Regions from separate parts of the Homo sapiens genome. Here region 2 is linked to region 1. Evidence: fine-mapped expression QTL. Tissue or cell type: stomach. Region 1 holds a variant in brackets; the other region holds the start of a gene. All regions are shown on one strand. Distances are between the middles of the regions. Region 1 overlaps SYNRG (synergin gamma). Region 2 holds the start of DDX52 (DExD-box helicase 52).

Region 1 (5,384 bases):
ACTGGCTCTTCTTAAAAAGCCAGCGTTGATTGGTTGTCATAGATTTGCTAAAGAAACAGAGACTCCTAGGTCAGCAGTAGAGATAAAAGATAAAGAGCAGCTCAGTAGCAGGTGGTCAGTGGCTCATCCTGACTTTGTCTTCATTTATAATCAGTGATGGTGGTTGGGTTTCAGGTAAGTTTTTCCAAGGCTCAGTTGTATTCTTTTCATCGTGTTCACATTTATGCATTATTTAAGCTATCTGTAATTAGATGTGTCCCAGATTGAGATCAAATGGTTTGAGATCTTTTGTTCTTTAGGAAGGTATTACAGAGTTATGTGTCCATTATCATGTTTGTTATTTTGCATTTCTATACACTTTCAAGTAAAAATATGCATATGGAGCAAAGGAACTGGACAAGAAGAGACCCCAAAGTGTTGCCTGATATTTTTTCTTAGGGAATTTGGAATTGGTTTGGAGATTTTTTTTTAACAGTTGTTAGAATGGACTTTTTGATCATTTGAAGGCTTTAAATTATGCATGGATCATTTCTGAAAACATATGTAAGAAACCGACAGCAAGGTCATGGCCACAAGATCATGAGTACTTGAACCGGAGACAGAGGAGAGAAAGAGACCTATTTTTTACTGTGTACACTTTTGTGCCTTGAAATATTATGCCAGATATCTGAGTTACCCATTCAGAAATAAAATAAAATCAGTTAAAATCAATAAAACTTTAAGTCCAAAGAAATAAGACGGAAAACATCTTACTGTGGCTATTTTCAATCTGTGTATTCTAATTCTCCCTGACACCTCGTGATCTTTGTACTTGGTGTTCTTTGGTCTGGAATATTTTTCCCAAACATCTGCATGGCTTGGTTCTTTATTTACTTGAGGTTCTTGTTGAAATACTACCCTGTTGGTAAAACTTTTTCTGATTGCCCTATGTAAAATAGCAACCACTCCATTCCCCCTTGCCCTGCTTTATTTTTTGCCCTAGCTCTTATCACCACCTGACATGTACTTATTTTTTTGTTATCTATCTCTCCTAATTACAGTGTAAGTTCCATGAGAGTGAAGACCTGGTTTTGTTCATGGCTATGTCCCTAGAACAGTGCCTAATACGGAGTAGGCTTCAAATACTTGAATAAGTGAATGGCCTACCTCTAATAACTGTTAGCCACAAATGTGGATGTCCATGCTTCTGAAATTAGGCTAGGTTATAAATAACCTGGGAGGTACACAAAAACCATAAGATAAACATGGTATAATTTCCTAGATCTTTAATTTTTCAAACTGACAGTTTGATATAAAGTTCCTTATGGTAGAACCAACATAGATGTAGTTTGAATGCAAAATTAGAATGAAATTTGTGCTCAGACTATGTAGGGATTTTGTTTTATTCACTTCTTGTGTACCAAGCACATAGAACTATGCCTAGCATATAATAAGCATTTAGTATTTATTAAAATCCCAAAGGGATGTATATTCATTCACCTCTGCTCTTGGAAAAGTTTGGGAAACACTAGCCTAAATCATACATTCGTGATAGTTTTCTGCCATTGCACATGCTGATGGCTATTTTGTGGTAACTGTTATATTACCTATTCATGTAAGAAAAAGGAAGAAGAATAACATTTCTTTGAGCATAGTAAGTATTAAACAGTTTTACAAATGATAAACCAAGGCATAGAAAGAAGCAGATTGCCCAAGGTTCCAAAATAGTATGTGTCATTTCTAGTTGGCTCCCAGAGTTCATGCTCCTAACTGTTATTTTGTTAGTTATCTGCTGTTGTGTAACAAATTATCCCAAACTTTAAAAAGTAAACATTTTATTATTTCATAGTGTGTCTCTCGGTCAGGAATCTAGGAGTAGCTCTGCTGGGTGGTTCAGGCTCAAGACCTCTTATGAGATTGCAGTGAAGATGTCAGCCAGGCTTGCAGTCATCTGAAAGTTTCATGGAGATGCTGCCGAGGTGGCTCGCTGAGATAGATGGCAAATTCATGCTGCCTTTTGGCAGAAGACCTCAGTACCTTACCACATGGATTCTCCATAGGTCTTATTGAGTATTTCATGACGTGGCAGTGGCTTGCTCCAGAGCAAGTGATCCAAAAGAACCAGGAGGAAACTACAGTGTCTTTTAAGAACTAGCCTTCAGGCCAGGCACAGTGGCTCACACCTGTAATCCCAGCACTTTGGGAGGCTGAGGCGGGTGTTGAGGTCAGGAGTTCAAGACCACCCTGGCCAAGATGGCGAAACCCCATCTCTACTAAAAAATACAAAAATTAGCTGGGCGTGGTGGCAGGCACCTGTAGTCCCAGCTACTTGGGAGGCTTGAACCCAGGAGGTGGAAGTTGCAGTGAGCTGAGATCATGCCACTGCACTCCAGCCTGGGTGACAGAGTGAGACTCTGTCTCAAAAGAAAAAAAAAATAACTAGCCTTCGAAGTTACATGCTGTCATTTCCACAGTATCCTGTTGGTTATACTGATCAGCCCCATTCAGTATGGAATGGAACAACACACGGGTATGAATACCAGGAGACAGAGGTCATTGGAGGCCATCTTGAAGGCTGAGTACCCCAATTAGGCCATACTGTTTTTTAATATGCATACAAATTCCATAGAAGAGATATTATCTTCATTTTACAGATGAAGTTTTGTAACTTGTTCAAGATCACACAGCTAAGTAAATGATGGAGTTGGAATTCATATTCACATCTGTCTCACTCAGGACCCTGTGCTTTTTCCATTACACTCTGCTTCCTGCCAAGTAACAAGTCCTTTAGGTACTTATGGTTTTAAGAAAATAAACTTTAAAACACATTGACTTTAATAATGTCTTTATATTTTCAGCAGGCCTGATGCCGATGCAGCAACAAGGATTTCCTATGGTCTCTGTCATGCAGCCTAATATGCAAGGCATTATGGGAATGAATTACAGCTCTCAGATGTCCCAAGGACCTATTGCTATGCAGGTACTTGCTTCTTTAGTTGGTTTCTTACAAAGTTATTGTTTGTTGTTACGTTTATATATCAAGAGCTACAGGCTAAGAGCTTAATGTTACAATTAGAAATAAGCATAAATAAATGGCTTCCTTCAAACTAAAATGAAGATGTGTTCACCCTCCAAGAGTGAGGGAAAAGGCTAGGTGCAGTGGCTCATGCCTGTAATCCCAGCACTTTGGGAGGCCAAGGCGGGCAGATCACTTGAGGTCAGGAGTTCGAG[A/G]CCAGCCTGGCCAACATGGTGAATCCCTGTTTCTACTAAAAATACAAAAATTACCTGGGCGTGGTGGCATGTGCCTGTAGTCCCAGCTACTCGGGAGGCTGAGGCAGGACAATCCCTTAAACCCGAGAGGTGGAGGTTGCAGTGAGCCAAGATCATGCCACTGTACTCCAGCCTGGGCAACAAAGTGAGACTCCCGTCTCAAAAAAAAAAAAAAAGGCCAGAGGAAAAAAAGGTTTTTGCTTTTGTACTATTAACAGCTATCTTGAAGGCCATATACTGTATTTCTTTTTTACCTAATACTTTACTTATTTTTGCTTTTTTCAACTTATATTTTAGATTCAGGGGGCACGTTTGTAGGTTTGTTACACTAATATGTTGTGTGATGCTGAGGGTTGGGGTATGATGGAACCCATCACCCAGGTAGTGAGCATAGTACCAACAGGTAGTTTTTCAACCCTTCCCCCACTTTCTCCCGTCTTGTAGTCTCCAATGTCTGTCGAGCCTGTCTTTATGTCCATGTGCACCCAGTGTTTAGCTCCCACTTGTGAGAACATGCAGTATTTGGTTTTTTGTTTCTGCGTTAGTTTACTTATTTACCTAATACTTTAACATTTTCTATTTCTGTGTGTTTTGTTATACAGTATATACTTTTATACAGTAACACATGTATATAACTTATAAATAAGTGATATTAGGACTTCATGACCAGAATTTTAAGTTGAAACCATTGTTGTTTTGAAGTCGATTATGCAAATAAAGCTTCTGTTTTGTGTTTAAAGGGTCAGGAAAACTTCCAGTGTCATTTTTTATCTGTCTCTAGAAGGAAGGGAATACATTGAAATTGTGTAGGTTTTTAATTCATGTTAAGCTAGCTTTCACTAGGGTGTGCTGCAGAAACAGTCCCCAGATCTCAGTGACTTAGAAAAGTTTATTCCTCACTCGTGATACATATCCTTATGGGTTAGTGCTGACTCTGCTCCATGTTTTCTTTATCCTAAGACCCTCAGCCAGGACATCCTAGGCTCTTGGCATAGGAAAAAGAGATGGCCAAACCCTGTGATGTCTTTTAAAGCTAACACTTGGAGGTAGCATTTATTAGTCACTTCTGCTCACCAAAGTAATGTGGCCTTAACATCAATAGGGGAGGAATATACCAGGACGAATGTAAACCACATAGGGATGTGTAGTTCTCTTAGAATAAAGGTAGCAAATGGCTGGGAGCAGTGGCTCACACCTGTAATCCCAGCACTTTGGGAGGCTGAGGTGGGCAGATCATGAGTTCAGGAGATCGAGACCAGCCTGACCAACATGGTGAAACCTCGTCTCTACTAAAAATACAAAAATTAGCCGGGCGTGGTGGTGCATGCCTGTAATCCCAGCTACTCAGGAGGCTGAGCAGGAGAATCGCTTGAACCCAGGAGGCAGAGGTTGCAGTGAGCTGAGATTGCGCCACTGCACTCCCGCCTGGGCGACAGAGTGAGATTCCATCTCAAAAAAAAAAAAAAAAAAGAAGAAGAAAGGCAGCAAATAACTAAAAACAATCTACCATAGAATACAATGTATTTTAAATTAAGACTTCCTAAGCTTAATACTGAATCTTAATAACAATTGATACAAATTTTAAATCATTAATTTTTATTTTAATATTAAATATTAATTAAAATAATTAATATTGTAATTAATATAATTAAAATTAATATTATTGTAATTAATATAATTAAAATAATTAATATTGTAATTAATATAATTAAAATAATTAATATTGTAATTAATATAATTAAAATAATTAATATTGTAATTAATATAATTAAAATAATATTCATAAACATTATTTTATGACTTACACAATTATCTGAAAAATGTTTTTAGAGTTTGAAACAACCAAAAACAGTAAGAGTCTCTAATATGCAGAACAATAAGAAAAAAGTAAACTATGAGAGTTGTTAGTACCTTAATAATGTCCCTGAATATCAGAAGCTTGTGTATTAATGATTCTAAGACAAAGCAGCCAAAGTCTTTTTCTTTAACCTTTAATCTTGCTGACAGGCATTATACTGTTTGGAAGCTGCTCACCATTTTTTTTTTTTTTTTTTGAGAGGGAGTTTTGTTGCCCAGGCTGGAGTGCAATGGCACGATCTCGGCTCACTGCAACCTCCGCCTCCCAGGTTCAAGCG
Region 2 (5,384 bases), 47 kb before region 1:
ACCAATCATCTCTATTCACCAATGTCCCTGAAACTGACATTATCAGGGGCTCTAGTGACCTCCACGTTGCCAAATGCAGTGATCTTTTCTGTCTTCAGCCTCTCAACAGCCTTTGAAATAGCTGATCACTACCTTCTTAAAACTTCTGTCTGGCTTTGGTGACACCAAATTCCTGGTCTTCCTACCTCACTGCTTGCTTTCTACTTCACTTGCTTCTTCTCAGACTCTTGTTTTACAGGTGTCTCCTCCTCCACCTCATCTCCAAGCATTAGAGTACCATAGGGTCAGTCCTGGGTCCCCTTCTCTTCTCCATTCACACATTTTCTCTAAGTGATCACATTCATGCTCATGCTTTTGGAGATGGGTTTGTTACCACTTACATAGGGATTAGGTTCTAAATCAGCTCATAAAGAAAAAAAAAATCTCATAAAGTTGAATTTTTTTTTAAATTCCCTAAGTCATCCACAAAGTATGGTAGTTGCCATTTCATACATATTAATTTTATATATGGCTATGGCCATATTTATGTGCCAAACTGAAGATCAACACACTAATATTGAGTTTTTCCTCTTATGTTGAAATAGATTAATTTTATTTATTTTTGAGACAAGGTCTCACTCTGTCACCCAGGTTGGAGTGCAGTGGTGCCGTTACAAGTCACTGCAGCTTCAACCTCCCAAGCTCAAGCAATCTTCCTGCCTCAGCCTCCCAAGTGGCTGGGACTATAGGTGTGTGCCACTACACCCAGCTAATGTTTTAATTTTTTGTAGAGATGGAGTTCCGCCATGTTGCCCCGGCTGGTTTCAAACTTCTGAGCTGAAGTAATCTGCCCACCTTGGCCTCCCAAAGTGCTAGGATTACAGGTATAAGCCACTGCGCCTGGCTGAAGATAAATTATTTTTATTGAACAACAGATGAAGTACTTGGGAAGTTCCTATTTTTAAAGAGTAGACACACTTGGGACAGGAAGACCACCCCCCGACCCACTGTAATAGGGAGTAAGGGGCTGAATTCATCTGAGAAACCGCAGATTCACCTCCCCCATCACATGCTCACCTCACACCTGCTTTCCTTGATTGTAAAGGACTCACCCATACAATTTCAAGTATGTTTCATTCTCTTTGGTCAAATACATATAACTGAATTTTTATAAGTTAAATGCTTATATGGTACAACTCCTTTGTATCATTTATATGTTGATGACTTCCAAATTAATTTCTCTAGCCCTAATTTTTGTTCCTGAGCTTCAGATTCAGAACCAACTACCTACTTGGATGTCTCCACTTAAAGTCAACTAGGTAGGCATCTTAACACGTCCAAAACATAACAATTGATTCCATCCTCCGTATCTCACTTGTACCAGAAAGCCCTTCTTCTCTCAGGCTTTCTTAGCTCAGTAAATGGCATGCCATCTACTCAGCCAAAAAACTAGGAGTGATCTTTGATTCCTCCCTTTCTCTCACCTCTGCATAAAATCCGTCAGGTACGTTTAGCTCTACCTCCAAAATACATGCCAGATCTAATCCATTTATCTCTCTCAGCACAGATACCAACCTAGACAAGCCATGATCATCATTCTACTTTGACTAACCTGTTTCCACTCTTAGCTTTTCTATGGTCCATTCTCCAAATAGCCAGTGTAATCCTTTATGAAACATCCACGCATTCATTCACCAAAGTGCACAGAAACTGGGGATACATAACGAAGCAAAGTATATCCCTGTGCTCAGGGACTTACATTCCAGAAGAGGGAGAGGCAATAAGCAGTAAATAATTTCGTACAGATGTAATAAATATAAAAAATTAAATGTGATAAACTAAATCATGTTCTTCTCTCCATAAAAATTTTCAAATAGTTTCCCAAGGTGGAAGTCCAAATTCCTTACTATGACCTTGTTACAAGATTCTGTGAGATCTGGCTTCTGTTTGTCCCTCCAACCTTATCTGTACTACTCTATCAGACTGCAACTTGGCTCTAGTCGCACCGGCATTCTTTCTATTCCCTCAAGGTTCCAATTTTTTTCCCTTCAGCCACGTGTTTCCCCTATCTGGAATGCTGTTCCCAGATCTTGGACAGGTTGCTTCCTCTTAGCTCAAGTTTTCACTTCAACAGAGTGAATTTCACTAAGTCAGCTCCCTCATCATTTTCTCTATCAATTACACCTTTTTGTTTTATAGCACTTATTACTTTACAGAGATTTTGCTTATTTATTTGTTAACAATATCTGTTGTCCCTACTAAAATGTAAGCTTCGTAAGAAGAGGAATCTTAAGATGTTGTTTACTATAGTATCCCTCAAAGTCTAGAACAGTGCCCAACATAAGAGGATACTGATAAATATTTTTTAAAAGAATTTACACACGCCTGTAGTCCCAGCAGTTTGGGAGACCGAGATGGGAGGATCACTTGAGCCCAGGAGTTCGAGGCTGCGATTGCGCCACTGCGCTCCAGCCTGGGCGACAGAGAGAGACCTTGTTTCAAAAAAAAAAAAAAAAGATAAATAATGACGGAGTACACGATAATAAAATAGCCTCGTTTCTCACCCAGCCAGGCTCCGCCTACAGGAGCCAATTATGCTCACGCCCTCTTCCGACGCTGCCCGGGGCCTGGGAAGTAGTCTGCGCAGGCGCCGTAGAACTGTGGCGCTTTCTGGGTAAAGATGGACGTCCACGATCTCTTTCGCCGGCTCGGCGCGGGGGCCAAATTCGACACGAGACGCTTCTCGGCAGACGCAGCTCGATTCCAGGTACTGTGCCCAAGGGACCGAGGGCCGAGTAACTGAGAAGGAGCAGGAGCCCGGGAATGAACCCGCTGCTGGGGGAGGCCGGCGCACTTGGACACCCGTGGCCTGGCTCTCGCCACCCTTGGGGTATTTTGCTTCCTTTTGTGTTCGGCTTGCCTGCACGGCTGCTCGGTTCAAGCCTTTTGAATAAGCTCTTTAACTATCCTGTTGTAGACCTAGTTGGGCCTGGCACGGAAACCCTCTTTCCTCCCTCTTATTCAAAGCAAAGTTGGAATCCTCCTTTCAAAAGGAACTTTTTCTCCGAACCTAGAGGAAAGGAATTTCGAAAACAGAAACAACCAAAGATGGAGAAAACAGATTCTCTTACTATAGTCTCCCCAAGTTTGGCTTGGCATGCGTATAGTTGTACTGGGCGTGATTCTTTTTATTGCTTCAACCCCATGGCTTAAGTAACCAATGAGAAGAGCGATTAAGAAATGGGGGCTCTTACCTAGAGAAGTAGTGAGTGATACATCGGGGGAGGTCAATTGGGGCCCAATTCTGGAAAATCTTGAATGTCTACTTTGTTGTTTGGATGTGTATATGCGTGTGACATGTGTTTCTTCTTTCTCTAACTGGTGAGTATGAACTCTGGAGCCAGATTATCTGGGTCTAAATGCTAAGTCTGCCAGTTACTCATTTTTAGACCTACCTCAAGTTACTTAATTTCCGAATGCCTTGGTTTTCTCATTCGTAATACTGCTATTTACCTTATAGAGTTGTAAATGTGAAGCAATTTAATATGTATAAACATGCTTAGAAATCTGCTTGACATTTAGTAAGCATATATGTGTTCATTGCTAATATTAATTTGTTACTATTATGAGGTCAGAGAAGGTCTCTTCAGATTCCATTTGTCCAGACACCTGTTAGCTCGACAGATACTTGGTGAAAGGGTAGAAAAGATGAGGAGTCATTGAACAGTCTTGCTTGAATGAAAGCAATGGTATTCTGTCAGTAGGTTTCATTTTACATTTTTTGGGTTTTAGATAGGAAAAAGGAAATATGACTTTGATTCTTCGGAGGTGCTTCAGGGACTGGACTTTTTTGGAAACAAGAAGTCTGTCCCAGGTGTGTGTGGAGCATCACAAACACATCAGAAGCCCCAAAATGGAGAGAAAAAAGAAGAGAGCCTAACTGAAAGGAAGAGGGAGCAGAGCAAGAAAAAAAGGAAGACGATGACTTCAGGTTAGTGTTTGATTTCTGTCATGTTTTTTCTCTTTAATTTTTTTCAGTTATAAAAATAATACAGGCTTATGGCTACAAGTCAGACAATAAGGTCATTTGTCAGCTGATGGCACTCAGGTTGTTTCCAGGTATTTGTCATTAGAAATATTGTTACAGCAAAGGTAATTTTAAGTAAAGATATTTATACATAAATCCTTTTGTACAGGTACTGTTATTTCTGCAGAATACCATCCGAAAAGTAGCATCATATGGTGAAAGGGTATGTACCCTTTCTCTGAAAAATACTACAAAGTGACTTCCCAAGTCCTTGTCAGTGCTGAATATTATTGGTGTTAATTTTTTTGCCAAGCTAATGAATGAAACTTTTTTTTTTTGAGACAGAGTCTCACTCTGTCTCCAGGCTGGAGTGCAGTGGCGCGATCTCGGCTCACTGCAACCTCTGCCTCCTGGGTTCAAGCAATTCTCCTGCCTCAGCCTCCTGAGTAGCTGGGACTACAGGTGCGTGTCACCACGCCTAGCTAATTTTTGTATTTTTAGTAGAGATGGGGTTTCACCATGTTGGCCACGATGGCCTGGATCACTTGACCTCGTGATCCGCCCGCTTTGGCCCCCCAAAGTGCCGGGATTACAGGCCTGAACCACCGCGCCCTGCCTGAAACAATTTTATATTTTACTGATAACTGGTGAGGTCGAGCATTTTTTTTTTTTTGAGATGAGTCTCGCTTTGTTGCCCAGTCTGTGGTGCAGTGGTGCAATCTCGGCTCACTGCAAGCTCCGCCTCCTGGGTTCACGTCATTCTCCTGCCTCAGCCTCCCAAGTACCTGGGACTACAGGTGCCTGCCACCACACCTGGCTAATTTTTTGTATTTTTAGTAGAGACCAGGTTTCATCGTGTTAGCCAGGATGGTCTCGATCTCCTGACCTTGTGATCCACCCTCCTCCGCCTCCGCCTCCGCCTCCTAAAGTGCTGGGATTACAGGCGTGAGCCACCACACCTGGCTGGTCAAGCATATTTTTGTATGCTTTACTGGACATTAATATTTCACCTTTTGTGAATTGTTTCTTCTTACTCTTTGCCCATTTTGACAGAGGTTTTTGTTTTTTTGTTGTTTGTTTGTTTGCTTTTGAGACAGAGTCTCGCTCTGTTGCCCAGGCTGGAGTGCAATGGCATGTTTTCCGCTCACTGCAACCTCTGCCTCCCAGGTTCAAGTGATTCTTCTGCCTCAGGCTCCTGAGTAGCTGGGACAGGTGTGCCCCACCACGCCTGGCTAATTTTTGTATTTTTTAGTAGAGACGGGGTTTCTCCATGTTGGTCATGCTGGTCTTGAACTCCTGACCTCGTGATCTGCCCGCCTCGACCTCCCAAAGTGCTGGGATTAAAGGTGTGAGCCACCGCGCCTGGCCTTTTTTTTTT

What was found. PIP is the estimated chance that this variant, and not a neighbour inherited with it, causes the effect. A credible set is the group of variants that fine-mapping cannot tell apart.
Region 2: it holds the start of DDX52, and the variant in region 1 is the best candidate, but not a certain one, in a credible set for the expression of DDX52 in stomach (GTEx, PIP 0.83).

What each region holds. Positions count from the first base shown.
Region 1 is chr17:37,593,798-37,599,181 of GRCh38, reverse strand. SYNRG (synergin gamma) reads left to right here. Exons shown (of 22, transcript NM_007247.6): 3 at 2,838-2,959. Among named protein-coding and RNA genes, the nearest start is that of SYNRG, 13 kb to the left of the region's middle. The variant A/G (reference allele first, on the strand shown) is at 3,211.
Region 2 is chr17:37,640,696-37,646,079 of GRCh38, reverse strand. It overlaps DDX52 (DExD-box helicase 52), which reads left to right and starts at 2,634. Exons shown (of 15, transcript NM_007010.5): 1 at 2,634-2,746; 2 at 3,772-3,970. The coding sequence starts at 2,660. LOC105371756 (a long non-coding RNA gene) reads right to left here and starts at 3,142. Exons shown (of 2, transcript NR_188617.1): 1 at 2,544-3,142. RefSeq lists an enhancer at 4,587-5,087.